Linked DNA regions of Homo sapiens: region 2 is linked to region 1. The links come from fine-mapping of genetic effects on gene expression. A gene starts in region 1. The other region holds a variant in brackets. All regions are shown on one strand. Distances are between the middles of the regions. Region 1 holds the start of NUCB2 (nucleobindin 2). Region 2 overlaps LOC124902640 (a long non-coding RNA gene).

Region 1 (11,523 bases):
GACTTTTATTGACACAACATGGTAAAAAATAAACACACAAACAGGAGATTAAATCCTAACTTCCCCCATTTACTCGCAAGCTACTTGCCTCTGAGTCTTGATTTTCCTACCTAGAAAACTGAGCTCATACCTCTTCACAGGTTTGTTGATGCGAGGAAAATAAGAATGAATACAAAGTAACCAGCACAGTGCATGACAATGGTAATTGCTCAATAAATATTAATGCCCTTCTTGTCTTGAAAAGGAAACATAAAGAAATATGAAAATCTGTTCTGTAAACACCCAAAGTGGTAGAACTTAAAAAGCAAGACCAGGTTGGGCATGGTGGCTCACACCTATAATCCCAGCACTTTGAAAGGCTGAGGCGGGTGGATCACTTGAGCCCAGGAGTTCAAAACAAGCCTGGGCAACATGGTGAAACCCCACCTCTACAAAAAAAAATCAAAAAATTAGCTGGGTGTAGTGGTGTGCACCTGTAGTCCCAGCTACTCAGGAAGCTGAGATGGGAGGGTTGCTTGAGCCCAGGAGGTCGAGCCATGCATACCAATGTACTCCAGCCTGGATGACAGAGAAAGACCCTGTCTAAAAAAAATAAATAAAATAAATAAATAAAAATTAACGACACAAAAAGCAAGCAAGACCAGTTTGACATACAACTTTAAAAGTAATTTTTGTTTTCGTTTTTGTTTTTTGAGACAGGGTCTGACTCTACCACCCAGGCTGGAGTACATTGGCGCTATTTCAGCTCATCAAAACCTCCACCTCCCAGGCTCAAGCCATCCTTCCGCCTCAGCCTCCAGAGTAGCTGGAACTACAGGCACGCACCACCACGCCCAGCTAGTTTTTAATATTTTTGGTAGAGATGGGATTTCACCATGTTGCCCAGGCTGGTCTCAAACCTGTGAGCTCAAGTGATCTGCTCACCTTAGCCTCCCAAAGTCCAAGGATTACAGGCCTGAGCCATCATGCCCGGTCTTACAGTCATTTTTGAAAGGCCACATTAGAGCTCTTCTCTGAACATTGCCAGAACCAAAGTCCTGATGCAATCATAGACCAATGAAAGCAATGCATCCAACATAATCTCTTCCTTCCAACCTTAAATCAGAACTGTAGCAAGAGACTCAGGTTTCCTTCTCTAAGACACTGCCTTGAGCTAGGAAACGTGGATTGCTTCTTCTTACTATCAATGTCACAAATCTAATGATGAAACAGGGTAGGGTGAAGAAAAATAAACGGCTTTTGAGTTTCTCCATGGCACCAGTTTCAAAGGCCACAGATAACCTGGTGCTCACCTCCATTTTCCCTTTGAAAATGAAAGTCAACAGGAAAGTGAGGTTCAAATAAAATATCAAGTGTATGACCAGCTGAGTTGGACTCCAGCTTTTCCCTGATCAAGACATTAGTATAGATCTTAGAGCCTCTGTTGTCTACATCTGTAGAAAAGGACACTCATCAATGAAACTATTATATCTCCTTTTTTTCCAGTCTTAACAACGGATTGGAGTATCCTAGATTATAGGCTTATGAAAAACAGATCTGTATCACTCAATAAACATATTATTAAAATTATAATCTCTTTATTATTTACATATACTGTACTTCAGATAATTAAAATACACTGCCAAAAAAAACTCTGCCAAGGCCAGGTGTAGTGGCTCATGCCTGTAATTCCAGCACTTTGGGAGGCCAAGACAGGCAGATCGCTTGAGCCTAGAAGTTTGAGACCAGCCTGGACAACATGGCGAGGCCTCTTCTCTACAAAAAAATACTTAAAAATTAGCAGGGTGTGGTGGCATGCTCCTTTAGTCCTAGCTACTCAGGAGGCTGAGGTAGGAGGATCACTTGAGCCTGGCAGTTCCAGGCTGCAGTGAGCCATGATCACACCACTGTACTCCAGTCAGCCTGGGCAACAGAGTGAGGCCCTGTCTCAAAAAAAAAAAAAAAAAAAAAAAATGCTCTGCCAAAAATAAAATCAAGTAACTACTATCTGAACTTCTATTAGGCTGCTTTAGGATTTTAGAATCAGAGAATTCTAAGATCAGAAATAATCTTGGAGGTACAGTAGTCCTCCCTAATCTGCGATTTCACTTTCTGCAGTTTCAATTACCTGAGGTAAAACAAGATATTTTGAAAGATCACATTCATATAACTTTCATTTCAGTGTATTACTGTTATTCATTTTATTATTATGTATGTATAGCAAAAAACATAGCGTATATAAGGGTTGGTACTACCTGTAGTTTCAGGCATCCATTGGGACCCTTGGAACATATCCCTCTAGGATAAAGGAGGACTACTGTAATCTAATTCAGCCCTACTTTTATAAAAGGTTATAAATACAGAAGGAAGTTAACTGACTTGGCCAAGTTCGTTTGGCAGAGCCCGTACTGGAATCTGGCCATGAAATTCTAACTAAGTATACTTTTCACCACATCATGGTTGTAAAAAAAATTTTTGATTGGAAATAATGAAAGTGATTGAAGTTTTTCCTTGAATAAATTATTTGAAATTGTTAGTAGCCTGTTTTTTGTTTTGTTTTTGAGACGTAGTTTCACTCTAGTTGCCCAGGCTGGAGTGCAATAGCGCGATCTCGGCTCACTGCAACCTCCGCCTCCAGGTTCAAGCGATTCCCCTGCTCCAGCCTCCTGAGTAGTTGAGATTACAGATGCCCGCCACTACGTCTGGCTAATTTTTGTATTTTTAGTAAAGACGGGGTTTCACCATGTTGGCCAGGCTGGTCTTGAACTCCTGGACTCAAGTGATCCACCCGCCTCAGCCTCCCAAAGTGCTGGGATTACAGGCATTAGCCACCATGCCCGGCCTAAAGGATTATTTTCAATACATTTTTAAATCCTGCACTTGCTTCTGCCAGCTACCCAGTACTCAAAAGGGTATTTTGTAGAACCCAGCCTTCAAAAGGGTCCTTAGAAAGTGGAAAGTAATTTACATATTATTCTAAGTAATGCAAAATTAGTTTAGTATGTGTTCAGAGATTAATAACATATCCCAAAACAAAAAAGACATCTGAATTGATGTTATTGATATTAGTGCCCATAATTAGTTGTGTCTTGAAAAGTACCTTAATTGTCTTAATTGTGCATTTTATCTCAACTGTTATTCACAGAGCGCAAACCAACTTGGCAAAAAGCATGCTGAAAGAATATATACAAAATACGTGATATGAACAATATGTACCTTGGGAGAGCAAAGAAAGGTAAACACAACATAGACAGATTCGACTCTTAGAACATGGGTCGTCCAGGCACGGTGGCTCACACCTGTAATCTCAGCACTTTGGGAGGCCAAGGCAAGTGGATCACCTGAGGTCAGGAGTTCGAGACCAGCCTGGCCAACATGGTGAAACTTCGTCTCTAATAAAAATACAAAAAATTAGCTGGCTGTGGTGGTGGGTCCCTGTAATCCCAGCTACTCGATGGGCTGAGGTAGGAGAATCCCTTGAACCCGGGAGGCGGAGGCTGCAGTGAGCTGAGATCGGGCCATTGCACTCCAGCCTGGGTGACAGAGTGAGACTCCATCTCAAAAAAAAAAAAAAAAAAAAAAAGATGGGTAAAATTTGGATAGAGAAGAGCATGAGTAAACACACGGAGACAGAAATAAATTTTTGCCTCCTTTAAGTTTCTAAAATTGTCTAGTTAAAAAAAAAATTTGACCCCCTACTACAAAGGTAGATGAGATCATGGAAAGCTTGAAGACCACGATGAGAAATAGAAGTTTCCATGTTCATCCTAATTAGGAGAGTGACATTATTTGAGATTTCATTTCTAATTCTAAATTTCCAGAATTTTAATTTTTGACCCTATTAGCTGAAGAAGATTTGTTGAAATATTTGTTCAACATTTGTTGAACTTATTCAAGTTTCAAAAAACAAAAACATTCCTTAAAGCATCTATCTCATCAATTCTTTAACTTTCCCATAGGGAAAGTCCACAATCTCCCTCAAACAAAATTCACTATCAGAAATATTTGCATTTAACCTCCCCTATTTTTAAACCAAGGTAATATCTTTTAGTGTTCATATTCGTCCACGGATTTAACAGAGCCTTAGTAGCAGGCTTAAATGGTAGCACTAGCTTATTCAATTGCATAAAATGTACATTATTCAATTTAGAAGTTTAGCAGACATAGAATTTCAAGAGGTTCTGTCTCTCAAAAATCATAATGGTTCCCGTTCATTCTCATTCCCTCATATTCTCTCTCTCTCTCTCCTTCTTTCCCTCCCTCTCCCAGCCATTTGATACTGTAAAATAACTGTCATCTAAGACCGTTGCAAACACCAACCACAATAACCATATTTGCTCACTGAGTTGCCACTTAGCAGGTGCAACAAGGAAATACTGTTTCTCATCTCCTAAAACCAAAAGGGTTCATCTCGTACCTAATTTGTCACTTAAGTGAAAAGCATATCACGACTTACACTAACTTTCTCCTAAGTGTCAGAGGTTGCTGGCTTAACCAGACCGGAGAAGAGCAGGATCCCCGGGCCTAGCTTTGCTGAGCGGCACAGGGGAGCATCGCCTGGAATTGGTGGGTGTCCCTCCTCACTAGTGGGCACCCCCTTGCCCATCGACCTGCCCAAACCCGAAGGGACCCCGCCAGGGTCTCGGTTTGGCACCTACCCTCTCCTGCTCCCCGCCAAGAGCCAGCCACCCTCCTCGACCCCGAAGAAAGCTCGGGTGCCCAGCTGCGAGTGGAGCAGAGGGAACCCAGCGCCTCCGGCTCGCGCTGGGAGCCCCCTCCCCGCCGGTGCCCCGCCCACAGCACGGCCCCCACCATCCTCTCTGCTCTGGCAAGGCAGGCGAAGACCGGAGCCTTATCTCCGGACTCCCCCACCCCTAATCTCCCGCCGCGCTGCTCCGCACCTACCGCGCGGCCACCGGCCTTACCTGGCCGGGTCTCGGCGAGCGAGGCTGCGCCTGGTGCTTGCGTCCAGCGCACAAACCTGTCCTCCAGCCCCCGGCCCACCGCTCCGCTCTGCCCCTCCTCCCGCCGCGCGCGCCCGCCTCCTGGCTGCCATGGCGACAGTTCCCACACTCTGCGGCCGCTGATTGGTCCGGTTCGCGATTGCTGACGACGCCGATTGGCGGGAGCAGGGACAAGGCCGCGCCGGGGAGCCTGGAGGCGGGCGGTGAGGAGGGCCGAAGCTGTGGAGCCTGGTGGGAGGCTGAGCCAGGAGGGACGTGGCGCTCTGAGATGCGGGCTCAGGAGGCCGCGCCTCTTCCTTCCCTAGCTTACCCGGAGAATCCTGTGGAGCAGGACTCGGGCGGGTGAGGTGCCGTCCTGAGACCCGGGCAGAGCCCCAGGGATCGCCTCTCCCTTGGCCTCTGGCCTGCGCCTGCAGCGCCCACGCAGGTCGGAGAATGGCTGTCAGGCCTATTCTCGCCCACAGGCCTCGCTCGGCTCTGACACCCCCGTCCTCCGCCTTGGCGGGAATCTTAACGGCATTTGTAACCGCACCCACCCCCGTTGTGCTGGGCCCTCGGTCACTGTGGTTTAACTGTATTTACCCACCTTCTCTCTTGCCCATTCGCAGACAGCTCTTTCCTCTGCATCCTGCCCCAGAGAACAGACATCTATTCCAAACCCCTCATTTTAAAGATGGGGAAACTGAGGCTCAAAGATGCACATGGGTAGCTTGAGCCTTCCAGAAGCTTTTGGAGCCACAGGCTGTTTACGAAGTTTCATCCTGCCGATTAGTTTTTTTCACCTGAAAAATTGGTATCATATCTACCTTAGGGTTATTCACGAAGATTGAATGAGATAACATTGCCAGGAAAACAGTACAGACTAGGCATGGTGACTCACCCTGTAATGCCAGCACTTTGGGAGGCCAAGGCAGGAGGATGGCTTGAGCTCAAAAATTTGAGACCAATCTGGACAACAGTGAGATCCTATCTCTACAAGAATATTTTTTACTTTTTTATCTTTAACACAATGATGTTTCAGTCTGAAGAAAATACTTAAAAATTTGCCAGGTGCTGTGTCGCACATCTGTAGTCCCAGCTACTCAGGAGGCGGAGGCAGAGGCGGGAGGATCACTTGAGCTCAGAAGGCCGAGGCTGCAGTGAACCATGATCATTGTGCCACAGAGTGAGACCCTGTCTCAAAAAAACAAACAAACAAAAACACACAGTACAGAATCTGCCACATAGTATGTTAGCAATGAAAGCTTCTGTTATCAGGAAGTACTACCAGCCAGATTGCCTCTGTTGCACAACTGGACTCTGTGTGCCCCTAACCGTGTAATTTGCCAGTTATTTAAGTGCTCTCTGCCTCCATGTCCTTGTCTGTAAAATGAACATAATAACAGTACCCTCCTACTTACAGCATAGCAAATTAATTTAAAAAGTGACTGGCACATAGGAAATTTTAAATAAATGTTAACCATTCTCAGATTAGTGGCTGAGCTGGGACTATAACTTAGGTCTCTAGATTTCAACCCAATCGTATTTATTTATTTATTTAGAGATAGAGTCTCCTTCTGTTGCCCAGGCTGAAGTGTAGTGGCGCAATCTCAGCTCACTGCAGCCTCAACCTCGCAGGCTCAGGCAATCCTCCCACCTCAGCCTCCCAAGTAGCTGGGACTACAAGCACACACCACCACGCCTGGCTAATTTTTTGGCATTTTTTTGTAGAGACGGATTTTTGCCATGTTATCCAGGCTGGTCTCGAAGTCCTGGACTCAAGCGCTCTGCCTTCCTCAGCTTCTCAAAGATTAGAAGCGTGAACCACCACACCTGGCCTCAATTATCTTTACTAACACTTCTCATCCACATACATAGATCAGTACCTCAAGGTTAGGCTCCTTTTTGAGGTTCAGGAGAAGAGGACCCTCCAGCCTGGGCGACAAGAGCGAAACTCCGCCTCAAAACGAACAAACAAACAAGGGTGAACTCCTAGGAGCAGGAGACTGATGCAGGACAGGAAAGCGCCAAAATTGAGGATTCTTGGCTTCACCCAGTAAAGAATTCAAGCGTGAGCTGGTGGTGTTAAACAGCAACTTTTATTGAAGCCGCAGTACCCGGCAGCAGCAGAGCTACTGCTCCTTGCAGAGCAGGGCTACCCTGTAGGCAGTGTGCCCAGAGCAGCAACTCAGAGGCAGTTCTGCATTCCTGTTTATACTGATTTTATTTTATTTTTATTTTTATTTATTTATTTTGAGACAGAGTCTCACTTTGTCACCCAGGCTGGAGTGCAGTGGTATAGTCTCAGCTCACTACAGTCTCCACCTCCTGGGTTCAAGTGGTTCTTCTGCTTCAGCCTCCTAAGTAAATGGGATTACAGGCACCCGCCACCACTCCGGCTAATTTTTGTATTTTTAGTAGAGACGGGGTTTCACCATGTTGGTCAGGCTGGTCTCGAACTCCTGACCTCAAGCAGTCCACCCACTTCGGCCTCCTAAAGTGCTGGGATTCTAGGCATGAGCCACTGTGTCTGGCCCTATACCCACTTTTAAGTATATGCAAATTAATGGGCAGTTTATGCAGAAATTTCTAGAATGAGGGTGGCATCCTCCAAGTTGTCAGGTCATTGCCACAGAAAGGGGCCATAACTTCAGGGTGTTGTCATGGCAATGGTAAACTGACATGGCACAGTGGTGGGCGTGTCTTATGGGGAGGTGCTTCTGTTCCAAACCTGTTTCAGCTAGTTCTCAATTTGGTCTGGTGACCAAGCCCTGCCTCCAGAGTTGAGTTCTGCCTCCCGTCTCAGTACCACCAGCTTGCCTAAGGAGGCATGAACTGGTCCAGGTTGGAAACAGAGCAGGTCAAAAACTCCTTTCCTGATCAGTAGTGGGATCACGCCTGTGAAGAGCCACTGTGTTTCAGCCTGGGCAGTATAGCAAGACCCTGTCTTGTCTAAAACAGTTCATTCGTGTGCACAATTGGAAAAAGCTGCTTTTAGAACCAGATAAATTGAATGGGAGACCTTCTTTATGTTTGTCCTGGTTTCAGTCAACTAAAACCCTCTTTTCCCCGCTTTTCTTTTAGAGATAGGGTCTCACTATGTTGCCCAGCTAGTCTTGAACTCCTGGCATCAAGCAATCCTCCCACCTCAGCCTCCCAAAATGCTGGGATTACAGGCATGAGTTACTGCACCTGGCCTACGCCTGTCTCTACAAAAAGAGCTTTTTATAAATTAGCTGGGAAAGAATCCACAGACCCTTTGAAAGATGCAGCAGGCTGCAGCGTACTCTGTGAGACAGGTGAAAAACTGTCAATTCCCAGAGTGTGAGAGGGGGAGAGTCTTCCTCCAAGCACACATTCCTACCAGGGAATCTGAACCTCTAGTCCACAGGAGAAGGCTTTAACCCTCCCCAGAGCCGGAATGGATTTAGGGAGTGGCGTGAAATAAATAAACGTAGAAGCAGTAGTGGGAAGTGCCTCGTAGGCATTCCCAGTCTCTATTGTGAATGGAGGGAAGCCATTCCTGACTGTATCTTACAGGGGCCCTCAGGGAAGCCAGCCAACAAACTGAGGGAGGGGTCCCAAGGTGAAAGAAGCTCCCAACTGAATTTTATGATATAATCTGGAGTGGGGATGAACTCCCTTGAGCAGAAACCAGTGGGCAAGCGAGAAGTGTGCAGGAGACACAAGCATACATGCTGGGTGTTCAGCTTACCAGCAGAAAGGGAAGGGCATGACCTGAAAGCTGTGGTTTCAGGTCACAGTGTGCACAGACTGCCTGGATCTAAACTCAGTGCTGCTAACAGGGCACTGATGGAGCAAGACCAGCCTTGCCAACTGCATGGGAGCTGGGTGAGGCTTGCTGCTGCCTGCTACTCCCCACTCCCTTTGTGAACTCATGTGCAGCAGAGGCAGTTATACTCCCTTCTGGAACAAATGGAAACACATCCCACAACACTGCCAAAAGCAATCTACAGATTCCATACAATTCCCATCAAAATACAATCATCATTCTTCACAGAACTGGAGAAAAAAATCCTAAAATTCATATGGAACAAGAAAAGAGCCGCATAGCCAAAGCAAGACTAAGCAAAAAGAACAAATCTGGAGGCATCACCTTACCCAACTTCAAACTATACTACAAGACTACAGTTGCTGCCGGGCATGGTGGCTCACGCCTGTAATCCCAGCACTTTGGGAGGCCAAGGCGGGTGGATCACCTGAGGTCAGGAGTTCGAGACCAGCCTGGCCAACATGGTGAAACCCCGTCTCTACTAAAAATACAAAAATTAGCCAGGTGTGGTGGCAGGCGCCTGTAATCCCAGCTACTCAGGAGGCTAAGGCAGGAGAATTGCTTGAACCCAGGAGGCGGAGGTTGCAGTGAGTCGAGATCATGCCATTGCACTCTAGCCTGGGGGACAAGAGCGAGACTTCGTTTCAAAAAAAAAAAAAAAGGCTATAGTTACCAAAACATCATGGCACTGACATAAAAACAGGAACACAGACCACTGGAATAGAATAAAGAAAAATGGCCAGCCACGATGGCTCACACCTGTAATCCCAGCACTTTGAAGGCTGAGGCTGGTCATCACTTGAGGCCAGGAGGTCAAGACCAGCCTGGCCAACATGGTGAAACCCTATCTTTACTAAAAGTACAAAAATTAGCCGGGTGTGGTGGTGGATGCCTGTACTCCCAGCTACTGGGGAGGTTGTGGTAGGAGAATTGCTTGAACCCGAGTGGCGGAGGTTGCAGTGAGCTGAGATCACGCCACTGCACTCCAGCCTGGGTGACCGAGTGAGATCCTGCCTCAAAAAAAAAAAAAAAAAAAAGTCAAAAAACAATAGATGTTGGCATGGATGTGGTGAAAAGGGAACACTTTTACACTGCTCTTGGGAATGTAAATTAGTACAACCTCTATGGAAAACAGTATGGAGATTCCTTAAATAACTGAAAGTAGAACTACCATTCAATTCAGCAATCCCTCTATTGGGTATCTACCCAAAGGGAAAGAAGTCATCATATGAAAAAGATACTTGCACATGCATGTTTATAGCAGCACAATTCTCAAGTGCAAAGACATGGAACGAACCTAAGTGCCCAGCAACCAACAAGTACACAAAGAAAATGTGTTATATATACACTATGGAACACTACTGATTCATAAAAAGGAACAAAATAATGTATTTTGCACCAACTTGGATGGAGCTGGAGGCCATTATTCCAAGTAAAGTAACTCAGGAATGGAAAACCAATTATCATATGTTCTCACTTATAAGTGGGAGCTAAGCTGTGAGGACACAAAGGTAGAATTATATAATAGACTTTGGGGACTCAGAAGGTAAGGTTGGGAGAAGGGTGAGGAATAAAAGACTACATATTGGGTACAGTGTATACTGCTGGGGAACCGGGTGCACTAAAATCTCAGAAATGACCACTGAAGAACTTATCCATGTAACCAAAACCTACCTGTACCCCAAAAACTATTGAAATAAAACACTTTCAAAGATAAAAAGTGGCCAGGCACAGTGACTCATGCCTGTAATCCCAGCACTTTGGGAGGCCAAGGCGGGCAGATCACCTGAGGTCAGGAGTTCAAGACCAGCCTGGCCAACATGGTGAAACCCCGTCTCTACTTCAAATACAAAAAAATTAGCTGGGTGTGGTAGTGCACGCCTGTAGTCTCAGCTACTTGGTAGGCTGAGGCAGGAGAATTGTTTGAACCCGGGAGGCTGAGGTTGCAGTGAGCCGAGATCATGCCACTGCACACTCCAGCCTGGGCAACAGAGTGAGACTCTGTCTCAGAAAAAAAAAAAAAAGAAAAAAAAGAAAGAAAGAAAAGAAAAAGAATAAATAAAACCCCAGCATTGAAAGTCTTGCTGCTAGGAACAACGGATGCTTTTGAAGCACCACCCTTTGTGCTTTGTTGGGGGAAACCAGTTATGTGGAAGCACTTGTGGATCCTCAAGAGTGTGCATGGGAAGGAATGAGTGTAACACGGGCAGGGCAGGGACCAGTGGACTTTTTGTAAGCTTTCAGCTCAATAAAATGAACCTATGTGGTGAGATAATAACAGTAAGTAAAACTAAAACTTGAAGGTTTAGCACTGACAGAGAATCTCCTGGTGGGAAAGATGTCTAAAGAACATGGGCCAGGCGCGGTGGCTCACACCTATAATCCCAGCACTTTGGGAGGCCTAGGCAGGTGGATCACTTGAGGTCAGGAGTCTGAAAGCAGCCTGACCAACATGGTGAAACCCCATTCTACTAAAAATACAAAAAAATTAGTGGGACATGGTGGTGCATGTCTGTAACCCCAGCTACTTAGGAGGCTAAGGCAGGAGAATCGCTTGAACCCAGGACACGGAGGTTGCAGTGAGCCAAGATCATGCCATTGCACTCCAGCCTGGACAACAGAGTGAGATTCTGTCTCAAAAAAAAACAAAAAGCAACAACAACAACAACAACAACAGAAACCATAGTCACTACCTTGTGTATTCCAACTGTTCTATAATACTAATTAAGAACATAATCACTACCTTGGACAAGGGAAAATACACAAGCTTTAGCGTCAGAATTGGACCCCAACCCTGGCTCTACTGCT
Region 2 (11,523 bases), 70 kb before region 1:
CTCTCGCGAGCGGCTCTGCGGTCCAGGACTCGGGGCATCCTCTGGGTTCGCTTAGTAAATTGAGACCGGGATCCAAGTGGCCCGGGGCGCTGCTCTAAGGAAGATGCTGACCGCAGTCGGTGATTGCGAGAGCAGGTGCACGCGTCCAGAGCGACATCTTACCGTTGGCGCGATAAACTTACATTACTTTAAAAACCAAAAACAACAAAAATTTAGCATTAAGTCGAAAGGCAAATTAAATCCCCAGGACAATTCAGTTAAACGCCTGAAGGTGGCCCTTAATTTCCCATTTCTACTAATCAAGAAGTGGCTTGCGACCTCCTGAAGCAAACCCAAATATTCTCATTCGGTGATTAAGTTTTACCACCTCTACACCAGTTTTTAAATCAATTTAACCGCAAAGTTCAGAACCCAAGTGGCACAGTAAATGTGTGTGCATTTATAACGCAGAACCTGCATTCTTTCCCCAGCAACCTGCATTCCATTTGTCTCATTGACCCTACTGCATTTTTCCTTCGCATCATTAAAAAGGATGTAATGTACAGAAAAGCACAGACAGACCTAAACTCCAATGCCAACCATGCCATCTGCTGATTATAAGACAGTGGGTAAGTGACCTCATATCCCCAGCCTGTTCACATGTCTCTAAAACTGAGAGAGTAAAAGCTTCCTTTCCAGGGTTAGAGACACTGTCACTGACTAAGCAAATAGTCACATTCTCACTTATCTGCAGAACAGAGTGCATACAGAAAGAGCTCAGAAGTGAAAGATGCGCAGAGTGCCCACAGTGGCAGCAACTAGCTGAGGGGCCTTCAGATCGCAGCCTTCCGGACCACCGTTATAACAGGTAGAGATATGCAAGGTTAAGTCCAGCTATTGAATTTTTAAAACCTAAATTACACCTCTTCTCAACCTCTGCCTCCTCCAAGGAGCCTTACCTGAGGAGACATCCTTGTCTGGTATTAGTGACATCATTAAATAACATTCCCAATGGAGGTATATGACGACTTCTTATACATGCCCAGAATAGTGATTCACAAAGTTGTGACACATACACATCACCCTGTAGAAATTATCAAATTACTCTTTTGGTAATTTTTACTGTTTTGGTAATTTTTTTGTACCCTTTTTACTCTAAAGGGTAAAACCGGCAGGTTTCTCTATTTATATTTCATTAGAATGAAAAGTCATTACCTGTGTTTTCGTTTTTACCAATATCATGTCTATTTGAACATCTTTTTTTTTTTTTTTTTTTTTTTTTTTTTTTTGGTGAGACAGAGTCTCGTTCTGTTGCCCAGGCTGGAGTGCAGTGGCGTGATCTCAGCTCACTGCAACCTCTGCCTCCCAGGTTCAAGAGATTATTGTGCCTCAGCTTCATCCTCCCAAGTAGCTGGGATTGCAGGTGCCTGCCACCACACCCAGCTAATTTTTGTATTTTTAGTAGAGACAGAGTTTCACCATGTTGGCCAGGCTGGTCTTGAACTCCTGACCTCAAGTGATCCGCCCACCTCGGCCTCCCAAAGTGCTGGGATCACAGGCGTGAGCCACCACACCCGGCCTGAACATGTCTTTTAATACTTTTGCCAACTTTCCATTCAACCCTAAAGCACACAGCAGATACCTCACGATGCTTCTCAAACAAAATAAGCATATATTCTCAGGAATTATTTATGGAAAACTCTGACTTTCTGTGTTCTTTATTGGTGCACAGCATTGAGACACGGTATTCAAATGCTGGTTGACACTGAGGTCATTTTTATGACACATTGCATCCAACTTGCTGTTGGAATATCACATACAATTTTGGAACCATATTGTAACACATATTGAAAATATCCAACAAGTAATCAGAATGGTAAATAAGGGACATTCACTCAAAGACATGTATCCAGGGACAGTATGGCAGAGACTGCTATTTGTCAACCAATATCTGTTTTCCCCTTTTTCCTTGAAAAAGGCCTCCAATATTTTCCTGGGCACAGGGATCAATAAAAGACTGCATTTCCTAATCATTCTGGAACTAAATGTGGCCATATGACCAAGTTCTGGCCAAAGTAATATAAATGGAAATGTTCTGTGTGACTTCTGGGAAATGTCCTTAAAGAGAAGGAAATGATCTTCTTTTCCCCTTCCTTCTTTCTGACAGCAGGATAGCAGATGTAATGCCTAGAGCTTGAGGAGACATCTTGCACCACAGTGTGGAAACCATGCACTAGGACAAAGGGACAGCAAAAGAGAAGGGTTCTGGGTCCCTGATGACTCGTGAAACCTCTACCAGCTTTAGAAGGACACCTCTGGACCTGTGGAACATAAGAAATAAAGTCAGTAAGCTACTCTTATTTAAAATGTTCTCATTTTCAGCAGAACCTAATCCTAATCACTACAAATGAGTAAAGGAGCTGAGCCCATTTTGTTTGGAGTAGCCTGGGGGTTTAAGAAATGGTACCAGTCTTGTAAGTCTCTGAAAAGCTAACACCTGTGTATGTGAGTACACATGTTAGGTGATGTTCTTGAAGGCAAAAGCAAGTTGGAGAGAGATTTTGGCTCAGTATAAGAAAAGCTTTCTGCTGGGCGCGGTGGCTCACACCTGTAATCCCAGCACTTTGGGAGGCCGAGGCGGGTGGATCACCTGAGGTCAGGAGTTCGAGACCAGCCTGGCCAACATGGTGAAACCCTGTCTCTACTAAAAATACAAAACTTAGCCAGGTGTGGTGGCAGACGCCTGTAATCCCAGCTACTCGGGAGGCTGAAGCAGGAGAATCACTTGAACCCGGGAAGCGGAGGTTGCAGTGAGCCGAGATCAATGCCGTTGCACTCCAGCCTGAGTGACAAGTGTAAGACTCTGTCTCAAAAAAAAAAAGGAAAGGAAAGCTTTTCTATTAAAGGAATGGGACATTTCAAGTTGCCCCTCAGCAACAATTTATTGAACTCTGCCAGGCACAATCTAGGAGTGACGAATTCAGCGATGGCTAAAGCACAGTCCTTAGCTTCAAAAAATCTGTCTAGGCCAGGTGTAGTGGCTTATGCCTGTAATCCCAGCACTTTGGGAAGCCAAGACAGGAGGATCACTTGAGCTCAGGAGTTTGGAATCAGCTTAGGCAACATAGTGAGGCCCCATCTCCACAAAAAAAATCAAGATATTAGCTGGGTGTGGTGGTGTCACCTATATTCCCAGCTATTTGAGAGGCTGAGGTGGGAGGGAGGATGGCTCAAGGCCAGGAGGTCATGGCTGCAGTGAGCCATGATTGCACCACTGCACTCCAGCCTGGGTGACAGAGTGAGACTCTGTCTCCAAAAAAAAAAAAAAAAAAAAAAAAAAAAAAAACACAAAAACAAACAAAAAACACCTCATTCTAGACCATTGTTGTTCCAAGTAGCTGTGCTGAAGGACTCTTTAAAAGTGTCCAACCTGGCCAGGCATGGTGGCTCACCCACTTTGGGAGGCAGAGGCAGGAGGACTGCTTGAGGGCAACAGTTCAAGACCAACTGGCCAACATAGCAAGATCCTGTCTCTATTATTTTTTCTTAATTCTAAAAAATAAAAGTAAAAATAAAAAATAAGTGTCCAACCCACGAAGAACTGTCATTTTGTGAAATAAAAATGAATTACTAGAGAAATGAAATAAAAAGACATAAAAATCCAAGCCCTCAATTTTTATTCTTAGATTCAAAAGACATAAAATTATTTTTGAATTGCTATAAAAGTTTCCAACAGCATGAGTAATGTTGGTTGGCCTTCTCACCATTAGGTAACAGCCAGGCATAGACCAGCACCAGTCACAGACCACACTGTGAGAAAGACCAGTCTAGACAAATGCAGATTGAGAGCCATTCTATAAAACAAATGACCTGTACTCTCAAAAAATGTAAATGTCATGAAAGACAAAATACAACTGAGGAGCTATTCCAGATCAAAGGAAATTAAAGAGACCTTACAACAAAATCCAACACACAAATCCTGGATCATGAAAAAATTATTATAAAGGACAGTATTGAGACAGTTGGTGAAATTTGAATACGGACTATGTGTTAGATTAATAGTATTGTAACAATGTTAAATTTCCCAAATTTGATAATTATATGATGGTTATGATTAAAAAAATATTTGTTCATAAGAGATGCTCACATATTTAGGGTAAGGGATCACAATGTTTGCAGCTTAATTCTGAAACGCTTCAGTCAAACAAAGAATTGGACAGAAAGAGTGAAAGCAAGGTATACTAGAATTTGTGAAAGGAAAATATTTTGGGTCCCCAAAATCACTAAGGAAAACTCAAGATGAAAAACTGCTTAGGGTAAACCTGTCTCCTGTTGCCCTGTTTCTATTCAGTCACTCCTCTGCTCACGGAGATAGATGCATATCTGACTTGCCTCCTTTGGAAAGGTAGAAACTCAAAATGGGAAACTCAAAAGAACGTAACCCTTTGTGTATCACCTGTGACCTGGAAGCTCCCACCGCACTTAGAGCCTTCCTGCCTTTGCTTCAGGTTGTCCTGCCTTTCCAGGCCAAACCAATGTACTTCTTACATATATTGATTGATGTCTCATGTCTCTCTAAATGTATAAAACCAAGCTGTGCCCCGACCACCTTGGGCACATGTCGTCAGGACTTTCTGAGGCTGTGTCATGGCTGTGTCCTCAACCTTGGCAAAATAAACTTTCTAAATTAACTGAGACCTGTCTCAAATTTTCGGGGTTCACAAATTCATTATACTATCGTTGCAATGATTTAATTTTTTTTCAAAATAACAAACACATAACAAAACTAAATGCAATGTGTGATCCCAGATTGGATCTTAGCGCAGAAAAA[A/T]TTTATAGTAGGATAACTGGCAAAATTTGCAGATTAGTTTATAGAATTGTATCAATGTTAATTTCCTGATTGTAATACTTTTACTGTAGTTATATAACATGTTGATATTTGAGGAAGCTAGATGAAGGGCATATGGGAATTCTTTATACTATTTTTGCAAATTTTTTGTAAGGCTAAAATTATTTAAAGTTGGGCAGCTAGAAGTCCTAACACCCAGTCCAGGACTTTCCACTATACCAACATCATGGACTCTGTCAGTGTGCTATCTTATTAAATGGTTCTTGAATTTAAATGGAAATATTTATTTATCATACAACACTGAAGGGTAGGGAGTGTGGCTATAAATGCTCTCAATGACATCTAAATGCTTATTAGACTCTTCATAACATCAGCCAGGTTTCCTTTCCATTATGGATTCTCTAATGATGAAAAAGAGTGAGGTGCTTTTCCACATGATTTACCACTGGTTCCCAAACTTGTCTGCATATTAGAATCACCTGGAGATGGGACCCAGGTACCAGTATTTTTTGTATCTCTTAGGTGATTCCAATATGCAGACAAGCCTGGAAACCACTGTGATTTCCACTTCAATGCTATCACTGGAAGACTTGAAGCAGGAGGTGGATAACCACTTACTAGCCATGCTGGAGAAGGGGTTCCTTCATTGGAAGATAGTATCTAAGGCCCTTACTCAGGCTCTATGACTCTCTAATATTGGTGTTTTACAAATAATCCATTCTATTAACATTGTCAAATCTTTTTTCCCAGAAAATTACAACAAATATTACATATTTTTCTAATTTTACTTTTAATATAATTAGAAATAAACCTATACAAACAACGACTAGAACAATATTTTCCAAAAAATATTGCACTGGAAGAATTTTTACAACATATATTTATAAAATGAATTCAAATGTAACAAAAATTATATAAAGTCTCTGTTTTTCTGATTCTCTATCAAATTAAAATCCAATTATTTATTTATAGTTTTAAAAATAGGCCAAATATCTAAATAAGCCAAGAAAAAATAAATCTAAGTAATCTTCAAGCTAGTAGAACTTTTTCCAAAATTTAAAAATAACGTTTTCAGCCCCATATTTATAAAAGGTTACTTTTCTTTTTTTTGAGACGGAGTGTCGCTCTGCCACCCAGGCTGTAGTGCAGTGGTGCGTTATCGGCTCACTGCAACCTCCGCCTCCCGGCCTCAAGTGATTCTCCTGCCTCAGCCTCCTGAGTAGCTGGGATTACAGGCGCCCACCACCACGCCCGGCTAATTTTTGTATTTTTAGTAGAGATGGGGTTTCACCATCTTGGCCAGGCTGGTCTTTAACACCTGACCTCGTGATCCACCCGCCTTGGCCTCCCAAAGTACTGGGATTACAGGCGTGAGCCACCGCACCCAGCCAAAAAGGTTACATTTTTAATTCAACATTTAAATTGAAAATTTTTCAATATTCTCCCAATAATTAGTAATAACAAATAAAAGCTCTTTAAAATCTTGACTTTAAAATAGGATATGTAAACCATCATTCTTAAATGGTTCTAAGACATAATTAATATTGGTAAAATATGGATTACACAGCACTGGTTTTCTTTATTTAAAAAAAAGCAATAATGGATAGGTTTTTTTTTCATGTTTTAGTTCCAGAAGACAATTTTTTTTTCAGAAGATACTGAATGGTCTTCCATCCAGAACTATTTTAGTCACAAGCTTACACACATTTTCCATCCAAAAATAAGATATTTCTATTAAAAGCTATACAAATTGGTACACAGACAGCATTTACTACACAGATACTATTTCTAAAGTTGCAAGGTTTCTAATTCTCATGTGTGCTAATAGATACCAGACTAACAGCTTCAGGAAAGATTAACCCTCCTTTCACTGTCCCTGAAAGGGGGATCCATCTTCCACCTTCAGCCTCCAGAGCTCTTCCATTCTTAGGTCCTGGAACTGGACACAGGGGCTCGGACAGAATTATCAGGAAGTCACCAGAGCCATAGCAGAAGAATGAAACAGTCACTCTAGGCATTAACTGACTTCAAATTGCTGTCCTTACAAAAATACTTAGCCTCTGTTTTATCATTTATATAAATCTTTTAGAAGATAACCCTGTTTTAATATAGTCACCTAGTCTTAATTAGTAATACAAAAGGCTTCCTTAGAGAAAAGATCAATAGCTTGGGATTGTGAGGGAAGGGAAGAATTTGTTTGAAAGGCCTGATAATAGAGTCCCATAAAGCTGGTGGCTATGAAACTTTAAGACTGAAAATGGTGCTAGGACCTCTTACATGCCTCAAAGCTTTCTCCAGTGATTAAGAAGGTGCATTAGAAATACAATAGTGGGAAAGTCAATACAAAAGTGGGAAAATGGGGGAGCGCATATAGAGAGGAAAGAACTTCTTGATTAAAATTCAGGTCATCCAGGCAAAAGTAGTGAAGAAGTAATAAACTAGGCTACTTTTCTCCTAACCAGAGATTGCTGAATTAACACCCTAGTCTTTCCGTATCAAAGATGTTTCTTCCTGTATTAACTGTAAGATGAATAATCCCTGCTGAGATCTATAAAGTACTATAGATAGGCTTCTGCTTATCTTTAAAACCATTATTATTTAAGGAGGATACAAAAAAGTCAAAGAACTGAACAGGGACATTCATCAGAGCATCTGACTGCTACGTATTTGCCCCAGATGCTGGTTCACTCAATCAGAGAGGAGTAAGGAGTCAGGGACCCACCCCATGAGTCAGAAATTCCCCTGCAGAGATACAAGAACTCTCTGCAATTGAAACCAAACCAGGAATGAGGGCCTGCCTAACTAGCTCTAGAAAAACTGACTTTTCTGCAAAGGTGCTTTTTCTTTTCCCCAAAAAATCAACCTTGAACCTCAATGAAACATACTATGAACATCAAAGGGAATAAATACACACACATATCAAAAGAAATAAAAAATGATATGGGATTAGGACTGAGATTTAGTTAGAAAAAAATTAAGATGCAAATTCTAAGATATATTACTAAGTGTCATAGAACAAGAAAGAATCACTACACAAAGTTGATAGGGATTTTAAATAGTCATGTTTGATAAAAATACTTCAATAAATACCTCCATAAAACTGTTTAAAACATTAAAGGACATAGTAAATATGCTTTAAAAAGGAAATCATCTATATATCACTACTTTAATAAGGAAATATTTAGAAAGTTGTCACACCAAGAACAGAAAGGATAAAATTCAAAAGTAAAACAACTCCAAATCACCTTAACAATGGAGGACAGCATGGAAGCAAAATAGGCCAAACAACATGGTACAAAACAAATACAACATGGCACAGACTGCATATGTGCCTCACACCCCATGCACAGAAAATCTAAAGCAAGGGCGGGGATTTAATTAAATGACACATACTCTGACATCACTAAAAATGCACATTGAAAATGAACTAAAGTTGAGCAGAAATAACATGTTAAATGCAATGATTCATGGGAGATAGCAAAGAGAACTAGATGCAATTTTTTTTTCTCTCTCACCATTAAATCAATTAAAAGACACAGACTGGCAAATTGGATAAAGCGTCAAGACCCATCAGTGTGCTGTATTCAGGAAACCCATCTCATGTGCAGAGACACACATAGGCTCAAAATAAAGGGATGGAGGAAGATCTACCAAGCAAATGGAAAACAAAAAAAGGCAGGGGTTGCAATCCTAGTCTCTGATAAAACAGACTTTAAACCAACAAAGATCAAAAGAGACAAAGAAGGCCATTACATAATGATAAAGGGATCAATTCAACAAGAAGAGCTAACTATCCTAAATATATATGCACCCAATACAGGAGCACCCAGATTCATAAAGCAAGTCCTTAGAGACCTACAAAGAGACTTAGACTCCCACACAATAATAATGGGAGAATTTAACACCCCACTGTCAACATTAGACAGATCAACGAGACAGAAAGTTAACAGGGATATCCAGGAATTGAACTCAGCTCTGCACCAAGCAGACCTAATAGACATCTACAGAACTCTCCACCCCAAATCAACAGAATATACATTTTTTTCAGCACCACACCACACCTATTCCAAAATTGACCACATACTTGGAAGTAAAGCTCTCCTCAGCAAATGTAAAAGAACAGAAATTATAACAAACTATCTCTCAGACCACAGTGCAATCAAACTAGAACTCAGGATTAAGAATCTCACTCAAAACCACTCAACTACATGGAAACTGAACAACCTGCTCCTGAATGACTACTGGGTACATAACGAAATGAAGGCAGAAATAAAGATGTTCTTTGAAACCAACAAGAACAAAGACACAACATACCAGAATCTCTGGGACGCATTCAAAGCAGTGTGTAGAGGGAAATTTATAGCACTAAATGCCCACAAGAGAAAGCAGGAAAGATCTAAAATTGACACCCTAACATCACAATTAAAAGAACTAGAGAAGCAAGAGCAAACACATTCAAAAGCTAGCAGAAGGCAAGAAATAACTAAGATCAGAGCAGAACTGAAAGAGATACACAAAAAACCCTTCAAAAAATCAAAGAATCCAGGAGCTGGTTTTTTGAAAAGATCAACAAAATTGGTAGACCGCTAGCAAGACAAATAAAGAAGAAAAGAGAGAAGAATCAAATAGATGCAATAAAAAATGATAAAGGGGATATCATCACCGATCCCACAGAAATACAAACTACCATCAGAGAATACTGTGAACACCTCCATGCAAATAAACTAGAAAATCTAGAAGAAATGCATAAATTCCTCAACGCATACACCCTCCCAAGACTAAACCCAGAAGAAGTTGAATCTCTGAATAGACCAATAACAGGCTCTGAAATTGAGGCAATAATTAATAGCTTACCAACCAAAAAAAGTCCAGGACCAGATGGATTCACAGCCTAATTCTACCAGAGGTACAAGGAGGAGCTGGTACCATTCCTTCTGAAACTATTCCAATCAATAGAAAAAGAGGGAATCCTCCCTAACTCATTTTATGAGCCCAGCATCATCCTGATAGCAAAGCCTGGCAGAGACACAACAAAAAAAGAGAATTTTAGACCAATATCCCTGATGAACATCGATGCAAAAATCCTCAATAAAATACTGGCAAACTGAATCCAGCAGCACATCAAAAAGCTTATCCACCATGATAAGGTGGGCTTCATCCCTGGGATGCAAGGCTGGTTCAACATACGCAAATCAATAAACATAATCCAGCATATAAACAGAACCAACGACAAAAACCACATGATTATCTCAATAGATGCAGAAAAGGCCTTTGACAAAATTCAACAACACTTCATGCTAAAAACTCTCAATAAATTAGGTATTGATGGGACATATTTCAAAATAATAAGAGCTATCTATGACAAACCCACAGCCAATATCATACTGAATGGGCAAAAACTGGAAGCATTCCCTTTGAAAACTGGCACAAGACAGGGATGCCCTCTCTCACCACTCCTATTCAACATAGTGTTGGAAGTTCTGGCCAGGGCAATCAGGCAGGAGAAGGAAATAAAGGGTATTCAATTAGGAAAAGAGGAAGTCAAATTGTCCCTGTTTGCAGATGACATGATTGTATATCTAGAAAACCCCACTGTCTCAGCCCAAAATCTCCTTAAGCTGATAGGCAACTTCAGCAAAGTCTCAGGATACAAAATCAATGTGCAAAAATCACAAGCATTCTTATACACCAATAACAGACAGAGAGACAAATCATGAGTGAACTGCCATTCACAATTGCTTCAAAGAGAATAAAATACCTAGGAATCCAACTTACAAGGGACGTGAAGGACCTCTTCGAGAATTACAAACCACTGCTCAATGAAATAAAAGAGGATACAAACAAATGGAAGAACATTCCATGCTCCTGGGTAGGAAGAATCAATATTGTGAAAATGGCCATACTGCCCAAGGTAATTTATAGATTCAACGCCATCCCCATCAAGCTACCAATGCCTTTCTTCACAGAATTGGAAAAAACTACTTTAAAGTTCATATGGAACCAAAAAAGAGCCCACATTGCCAAGTCAATCCTAAGCCAAAAGAACAAAGCTGGAGGCATCAGGCTACAGTAACCAAAACAGCACGGTACTGGTACCAAAACACAGATATAGACCAATGGAAAAGAACAGAGCCCTCAGAAATAATGCCGCATATCTACAACTATCTGATCTTTGTCAAACCTGACAAAAACAAGAAATGGGGAAAGGATTCCCTATTTAATAAATGGTGCTGGGAAAACTGGCTAGCCATATGTAGAAAGCTGAAACTGGATCCCTTCCTTACACCTTATACAAAAATTAATTCAAGATGGATTAAAGACTTAAATGTTAGACCTAAAACCATAAAAACCCTAGAAGAAAACCTAGGCAATACCATTCAGGACATAGGCATGGGCAAGGACCTCATGTCTAAAACACCAAAAGCAATGGCAACAAAAGCCAAAATTGACAAATGGGATCTAATTAAACTAAAGAGCTTCTGCACAGCAAAAGAAACTACCATCAGAGTGAACAGGCAACCTACAGAATGGGAGAAAATTTTCACAATCTACTCATCTGACAAAGGGCTAATATCCAGAATCTACAATGAACTCAAACAAATTTGCAAGAAAAAAACAACCCCATCAAAAAGTGGGCAAAGGATATGAACAGACACTTCTCAAAAGAAGACATTTATGCAGCCAAAAGACACATG

What was found.
Region 2: its variant is fine-mapped to the expression of NUCB2 in whole blood (TOPMed, PIP above 0.99).

The regions. Positions count from the first base shown.
Region 1 is chr11:17,270,210-17,281,732 of GRCh38, reverse strand. NUCB2 (nucleobindin 2) reads right to left here and starts at 4,994. Exons shown (of 14, transcript NM_005013.4): 1 at 4,905-4,994. RefSeq lists a silencer at 4,731-5,160 and an enhancer at 5,351-5,440.
Region 2 is chr11:17,340,122-17,351,644 of GRCh38, reverse strand. It overlaps LOC124902640 (a long non-coding RNA gene), which reads right to left. Exons shown (of 2, transcript XR_007062608.1): 2 at 5,600-9,844. LOC105376576 (a long non-coding RNA gene) reads left to right here. Exons shown (of 3, transcript XR_931094.3): 2 at 471-608; 3 at 734-832. It also overlaps a transcript of NUCB2 not described here. Among named protein-coding and RNA genes, the nearest start is that of NCR3LG1, 5.9 kb to the left of the region's middle. RefSeq lists a silencer at 1-23. The variant A/T (reference allele first, on the strand shown) is at 4,811.